2 linked regions of the Homo sapiens genome follow. The protein of the gene in region 1 purifies or fractionates together with the protein of each later gene. This does not show direct contact. Each region holds a gene or a part of one and is shown on either strand. Other genes may lie near its edges.

Region 1 (3,500 bases):
TATATCTTGGATTTTACCACCTATTCATGATGAAAAAATCAGTAGGCAAATGGCGCAGAATTGTGAAGCTCACACTTGTGTGTTTCATCAATCTTTGGATATTTGTGGGACTAAAAAGATTTCTGGTCACTCAGAAATGGCGGAACTCAGCTTAACTAATATTTCCCCTAAATTCCAAGAAACTGGCAGCATGAAAGTAAATTCACCTTTTCTGGATTCTGATTCCAGTTTGGAAAAAAATTCTTCTGCATCTGAGGACTCAAGCTTCCTTAAAGTACCTTCTGTGCTGAAATTGGAAAAGAAATCCTCATCTTACAGAAAGAAAGAGAACATCCATTTTTTAAATGGTGGTATTGATAGTGTGTCATCTTCCTCTAGTTACCCTGAAGAAGTTAGCATGATAGTAAATTCACATAAGCCCCAAAATAATTTGGATTCTATACAAGTTACCAAAGATCTCACACATGAAGGTACCTCTGTAACTAACCTGTTGTACCCTACTACCTCTTATTTGGAATTTGAAACGTCTGTCTCAATTGGGACAGAAGTAACCCCATTTCAGGAACATTTTGGGATTTATACTGGGAAGATATCCATTGATTTCCCAACTGCTGCCCAATTTGACAATCTCGTGGAAGCAGAGACTGGAGCAGTTGCTGGGCCTGCAGCGTCAGTTAACAGCTCAGGCCAACAGTGTTCTGAAGCCTCTGCTGAGCACATAGAAGCCAGGAGAAGAGCACATGACCAACTTTTGGACCTCAAAAGTAGTTTACTCAAAAAGGCCGATACATTGATTGGTGAGATTTTTAATTCTGTCAGGGAAGAACTAAAATTCAAACACACAGTGAGTACCTGCCAGGAGCATATAGCCATAGAAGGTATAATGAATCTGGGTACCCTGAAAGAAGACATCTCTGAGAAAAACCCATCAGAAGTGACACTAACAGAAATACAACAGACAGAGGGTTTGGAAGAGCAAGGCATGGAAAACATGTCAGAAGTCAAAGAGAAGCCCTGTGTTTCACCAACAGTTGGTGAGAAGAATCTTCTTGTTGATCCTAATAGTATGAATGTATCTTGTTTGTTAGAAGATAAAGCTAGGGAATTAGTCAATGAGATTATTTATGTAGCCCAAGAAAAATTGAGAAATGATACTTTTGAAGATACTGAGGATACTTGGGATTCTGAACTTCAGGCTAATACTTCAAAAATTCTGAACAGTGATAGTGTTAAGCCACATGATGTAGTTAGAGAGTTCTTGGTTTCAGAACAGCCAGTAAATCAAAGCACACAAATTAGTGAAAATAAAGTATTAAATGAATTCTTCTCCCTAAGTAACTTAGCTAGTGGCACAGAGTCAATTAAGGGAGGAGAAATTGTTCTCTACCAAAAATCCCTATTTTCTGGAAATGGATCTGGACTGTCTGATAGTATAAATTTGCAGGAATCAGATACGGTTTTACTAGCTGAAGACATGTCACATAAACGGTTAGATGATAGGGTAAAAACACATTTATTTCGCAGTGAGGACTGTAATGAGACAATGGAAATAGAGAATGTGGATAATAACAAAACTGAGACAGAGGACAGAAGAACTCTTGTATTAAATTTCAAATGGCCTCCACTTGTGAATGATGACATCCATGCACCTGGTACATCTAAAAGCAGTTTGTCTGATAGCCTTGTATGTATATCTGAAAAAAACTTGCCAGGACACAGTAAAAACACACCTCTTGCAATGTCAGATGTAGGGAAAGTACACAAGAAGGATAATGAAATAAATATAGGGAAAATTGAACTTATACCTTCCATGTTAGAAACAGGGAAAACAAACAAAAAGGATGCTGAATTGAATATTCTGAAATATGAGGCAGTCCCTCCTATGATAGAAATGGGAAGAATACATAAAATGGATGCTGAATTGAATGTCACGAAAACTGAGCCAAAAGCTAATGTTTTTAAAATGGGAGAAGTATACCAAATGGATGCCGAGAGCTGTATTGAAAAAACTGAGGGATCAGCTGTCATTTTAGGAATGGAAAAAGCTTATAAGATGAAGGATACTGAAGGGGATATTGGCAAAATTGAGGTGATACCTATGATGCCAGAAGTGAAAAATATCCACCAAAAGGATGCTGAAGGGGATATTGTAAAGACTGAGATGACACCTGTTACAGTAGACATGGAAAATATTTACCAAACGCATGCTGAAGGGGATATTGGCAAGACTGGGACGATAGCCTTGTCAGAAGTGGAAAATATCCACCAAAAAGGTGGTGAAGGGATTAGTGAAAAGGCTGAAGTGATACCCGTTACATTAGCAATGGAAAATACTTACCAAAAGGATGCTGAAGGGGATATTGGAAAGGCTGAAGTGATGCCTGTGAGGTTAGAAATGGAAAATACTTACCCAAAGGATACTGAAAGAGACGGTGGCAAAACTGAGGTGATGCCCCTTGCATTAGAGGTAGTAAATACTTACCAAAAAAATGCCAAAGGTTTTACCGGGAACACTGAAGGGTCTGTGTTGAAAATGGAAGCTACTTACCGAAAGACTGCTGAAGAGGTCATTAAGAATACTGAAATAGTACCGTGTGTGTTAAAAGTGAAGGAAGCACACGAGACAGCACCTGCCCCCTTAGAAATGGAAAAAGCATGCAAGAGAGATGTTAAAGAGACTATTGGAGCAACTGTGTCCACACCCTCTGTGATAGAAATGGAAAAAATATCCCCAGAAGATCGTGGTGAGAATATTGGGAAACACAAAGTGTTACCCGCAGTGGTAGACATTGAGAAAATACATGGAACAGGACTAGAATTGACCACTAAACAAGGGGAGGCCATGCTTCCTGCATTTGAAAGTAAAACACCACAAGAGTATGCTGAAGGGAGTGTTGAAGAAACAAAGGAAGAGCCTACAGAAATAAAGGAAGGCTTGATAGCACATGAAAATAGACTTCCTACATATTTCAGGGGATATGAATCCCCTACATTAAGTAAGGATTATGAGGGCTACCCAGCCCCAGCAATGCCAGATTTTCAACCTGGGGATACCACAGTAAGACTAGACAAAAGAATGTCTCTTACTGCAATATATGACAAGAGGAGAGAGACAGATTATAGTGACAAAGGATATAATTTAGCTTTTGTTTCTCAAGATGAACAAGAAAATTCTTCCTTTACTATATTATACGAAGAGCCCCTTCAAGAGGAGGACAAGTATGCTTCCGCAGAAGCAAGACAAACACAGTCTGTCTTGTTTCATGATACGTCCGCTGACAGCATGCCTGTTCTGGCATGTGAAAGGTCTGAGAGTAGAACTGACCTTGTCCATCACTTTGAAAAAGGTACTAAATTAGGTGAGACATTTGATAGTGATAGTTCAGAAATGTTCTTATCAGTGGAGGCCAAAAGGTACAAAATTTATCCTTTAGCATTGTCTCCCATTTATGAGGATGACAGCTCACAGGAGGACATTCTATCTAGTGAGGTTTCACCTG
Region 2 (3,500 bases), on another chromosome or scaffold:
CTCTCACGACAGAGACCGTCCGCGCCATGACCCACGTCATCAACCAGGGGATGGCCATGTACTGGGGCACGTCACGCTGGAGCTCCATGGAGATCATGGTACGGTGGCCGCGCAGCATGTGTGTGTCCAGGCACAGACTCCCGGCACCGGCTGCGTATGGAGACCCCAAAGCTCTGGCGGGGTCTGTGCCTTTGGTCCCAACTGCACCGATGCCTGGGTGCTAAGGGAGGGACAGGATGGTGGAGTGTGGTGGTTATGTCTGTAGGCCTTGCAGACGGGGATTCTGCATGGATCCCAGCGCTGTGTGGCCCTGGACAAATGGCTTAACGTCTCTGAGCTTGTTTCCCCACCTGTAGAACACATCTGCTAGGTGAGCCCCCATGGGGCCATTCTAAGGAGTCCCTGAGAGAGCCAGTGTGAAGCTCTTAGCAGATGCCCTGGAGCTCAGCAAGCACTCTGGGGTGACAACACCGTCAGCTGTTTCCACTGGGCTCCTGAGACGTGCCCGGTGCTGTTAGGGTCAAGGGTTCCACAGGGACCCTCTCACATGCAATCCTCACCGGTGCCTTTACCAGGTGAGTGCCGCAGGCAGCCCATTTTTCAGATGTGGACACTGTGGCACAGAGAGGTTCAGTAACATGCCAAGGTCACACAGCTTGGGCCAAGATTAACATCCAGGCTGTGTGGTTCAGAGCCTGGGCTGCTCATAACTGGACCCTCCGGCCTGGGGGTCCCACCACCCACCTCCTTTTCCCAGCTCACCAGGGCCTGCCTGGCTCCCAGGGAAGCTATGAGTGTGAGCAGTGGGGAGCCCGGGCTGCAGCTGCTGGGCCAGCCTGCTCCGGGGACACCTTGGTGCCCTCTCCATGGCTGCCCCGGCAGCCTCCCGCCTGCTCACAGGCAAGGGCCCTCGGGGTCCCTTTCTGCCTTCACAGGAGGCCTACTCCGTGGCCCGGCAGTTCAACCTGACCCCGCCCATCTGCGAGCAGGCTGAGTACCACATGTTCCAGCGTGAGAAAGTGGAGGTGCAGCTGCCGGAGCTGTTCCACAAGATAGGTGGGCACCCTCGGGCCCCTCGCCCCGCCCCACCCCACCCCTGCTCTCGGGCCCAGGGCTTGACTCCACCTGCTTTTCCTCTTCAGGAGTGGGCGCCATGACCTGGTCCCCTCTGGCCTGTGGCATTGTTTCTGGCAAGTACGACAGTGGCATCCCACCCTACTCAAGAGCCTCCTTGAAGGTGAAGGAACAGCCTGGTGGGGAGGGACGGGCAGGGGATAGGCATTTTGGACGGGTGGGACCTTTGGGCCGACTGCTTTGGTGCTGGGCAGGGGTTCCGGGAGCTGCAGCTGTTCCCACCTCGGTCTGCTGGGGGCGGGCTCCTTGGCGTGAGAACATGGAGCCCCTCCTGGCCTGATCCCATGTGTAGAGGGGCTGCCCAGCCTGTGGCACAGGCCCAAGTGGAGAGGCCCTTTCACATCCCCCCCCCTGCCCCCACCACATCCCCCCATCTCTACCCCCTACCACATCCCCCACCTCTGCCCCCCACCACAGCCCAGCATTCAGAACTCTGAGACCCCTGGGCCTGGGCTCCGAGATGGGGGCTGCAAAGCCACATGGAGGTGACCCTGGGAGAGGCGCCCCTCCCCACCACACAACCTCTGAGTGGGGACTCAGGAGGGTCCCCAGACTGCAGGATCTGGAGAACAAGGAGCAGGCCAAGAAAGTCTGCCCAGCCAGCAGTCTCAGCACTGGGGCCCACAGCCCTGGGTTCCAGGGCAACGTGGCCTGGCCCCCGACTCCTCCCATCCCATGGCAAGGTCAGGGCCCCCCTCCAGGAGGCCCTGCAATCCTCTGGGGGGGATGGCCAGGGGAGAGAGCACTCCCCTAGGGCCAGGAGGTTCTTCTGGGCCACGGGTGGCAGCCGAGACCCCAGGCTGCCAAGTTTCCTAAGAGAAGGAAGGCCAGCACCTCGCCTCCTTGTCCTGACTTGGGGTTGGGCCAGCACCACAGTCTTTGCACTTCAGAGCCTGGACAGGCCCCGCTCATCCACCAGCCCGTGCCCGGCCCACTGCCCACTCTCCCCTACTTGAGAGGCCTGGGGCAGGGGCACTGCCCTGGCTTCAAGATGAGAAGAGCCCCTATGAGGGAGAAGGGTCCAGAAGGAATGAGCCCATCGGCCCCCTGCACGTGGGGGTCCAGGTGACCTGCTCTCATCTGTAGCTGTGCTGCTCCCCTCCCCCGCAACCAGGGCTACCAGTGGCTGAAGGACAAGATCCTCAGTGAGGAGGGCCGGCGCCAGCAAGCCAAGCTGAAGGAGCTGCAGGCCATCGCCGAGCGCCTGGGCTGCACCCTGCCCCAGCTGGCCATAGGTAACGGTGGGGTCGCCATGGGGCCAGTGCCCCTGGGGAGAACCTGCCCCAGCTGGCCGTAGGTAACAGGGTGGGGTTGCCATGGGGCCAGTGTCTCCGGGGAGAGAGGGAAGGGATCCCTGGACATCATCCCCCAGCCAGCCTCGGGTAATCGGGCTCTAAGGGGCATGGTTGGGACCCCATGCCTCTAGGGGGATGTCAGGAGTCCCTGAGGACCTGGGCCACCCCCTCCATCTGCCAGCCATAGGTAATGGGGCTCCCGCTTTCATGGGAAGAGGATGGGGAGCGCTAAGCACTTGGGCCACCTCTCCATCAGGGAGCAGCGGGCTCCCCCATGCCTCCTCCAGCCACCTCTTAGACAAAGCCCGTGCCCAGCACTGCAGGGCTTCCTAGACCCCCTCAGACCCCCAGACCAAGATGCTGGGTCTCTCGGCCCAGTCAGAGGCAAGGCAGACCCATCAGGGGCCCCTGTGGTGGGTGTTTCTCCCTCACCTTGGGTCTCGCCGCCACAGCCTGGTGCCTGAGGAATGAGGGAGTCAGCTCCGTGCTCCTGGGGGCCTCCAATGCGGACCAGCTCATGGAGAACATTGGGGCAATACAGGTAAGAGTGAGAGGCCCTGCTGGGCAGAGGGCCCATCCCAGCCCGAGCCCCGTCCAGTGCATCCTCCCAGGCTCGTCCTGCGTGCCAGGCTCTGTTCTAGGCACTCAGGATGCGCCCGTGAACCATCAGAGTTGTGCTCCTGGAGAGCTTGCTTTCCAGCAGGAACAGACATGAACACTAACTGCACGAAACAAGGAGGTTAGAATGTGTGTCAGGGTGGACGAGCGCTGTAGGAGAGAAGCCAGAGATAAAGGGAGGGAGCTGGGGCCAGGGACGGTGGCGCTGCAGACTCAGGTTCAAGGGGGCCTGTCAGGTGGGCTTGTTGAGAAGGTGGTGCTTGAGCAGTCTTGAGAGATGCGGAGTAAGTCACGCAAATGCCTGCGGGAAGAACCTTCCACCAGCAGGAAGAGTTGATGCAAAGGCCCAAAAAGGCCTGGAGCAGAGGGGCAGATCCTGAGAGGCACGAAACACCTCCAGGGACTTCTGAGTGAGACGGGAGCCGTGGCAAAATTGTGGGCAGAGGAGGGCGA

Evidence for each region. Proteins that work in one complex are often made in the same cells at the same time.
Region 2: the proteins of CRYBG3 (region 1) and KCNAB2 purify together in Homo sapiens (co-immunoprecipitation; one large-scale study listed by IntAct). This does not show direct contact.

The regions. Positions count from the first base shown.
Region 1 is NC_000003.12:97,874,011-97,877,510, forward strand, and holds part of CRYBG3 (very large A-kinase anchor protein), read left to right. Parts: coding exon 1-3,500.
Region 2 is NC_000001.11:6,094,388-6,097,887, forward strand, and holds part of KCNAB2 (voltage-gated potassium channel subunit beta-2), read left to right. Parts: intron 1-12; coding exon 13-98; intron 99-935; coding exon 936-1,056; intron 1,057-1,142; coding exon 1,143-1,237; intron 1,238-2,248; coding exon 2,249-2,369; intron 2,370-2,881; coding exon 2,882-2,970; coding exon of another isoform or gene 2,971-3,144; exon of another isoform or gene 3,145-3,168; intron 3,169-3,500.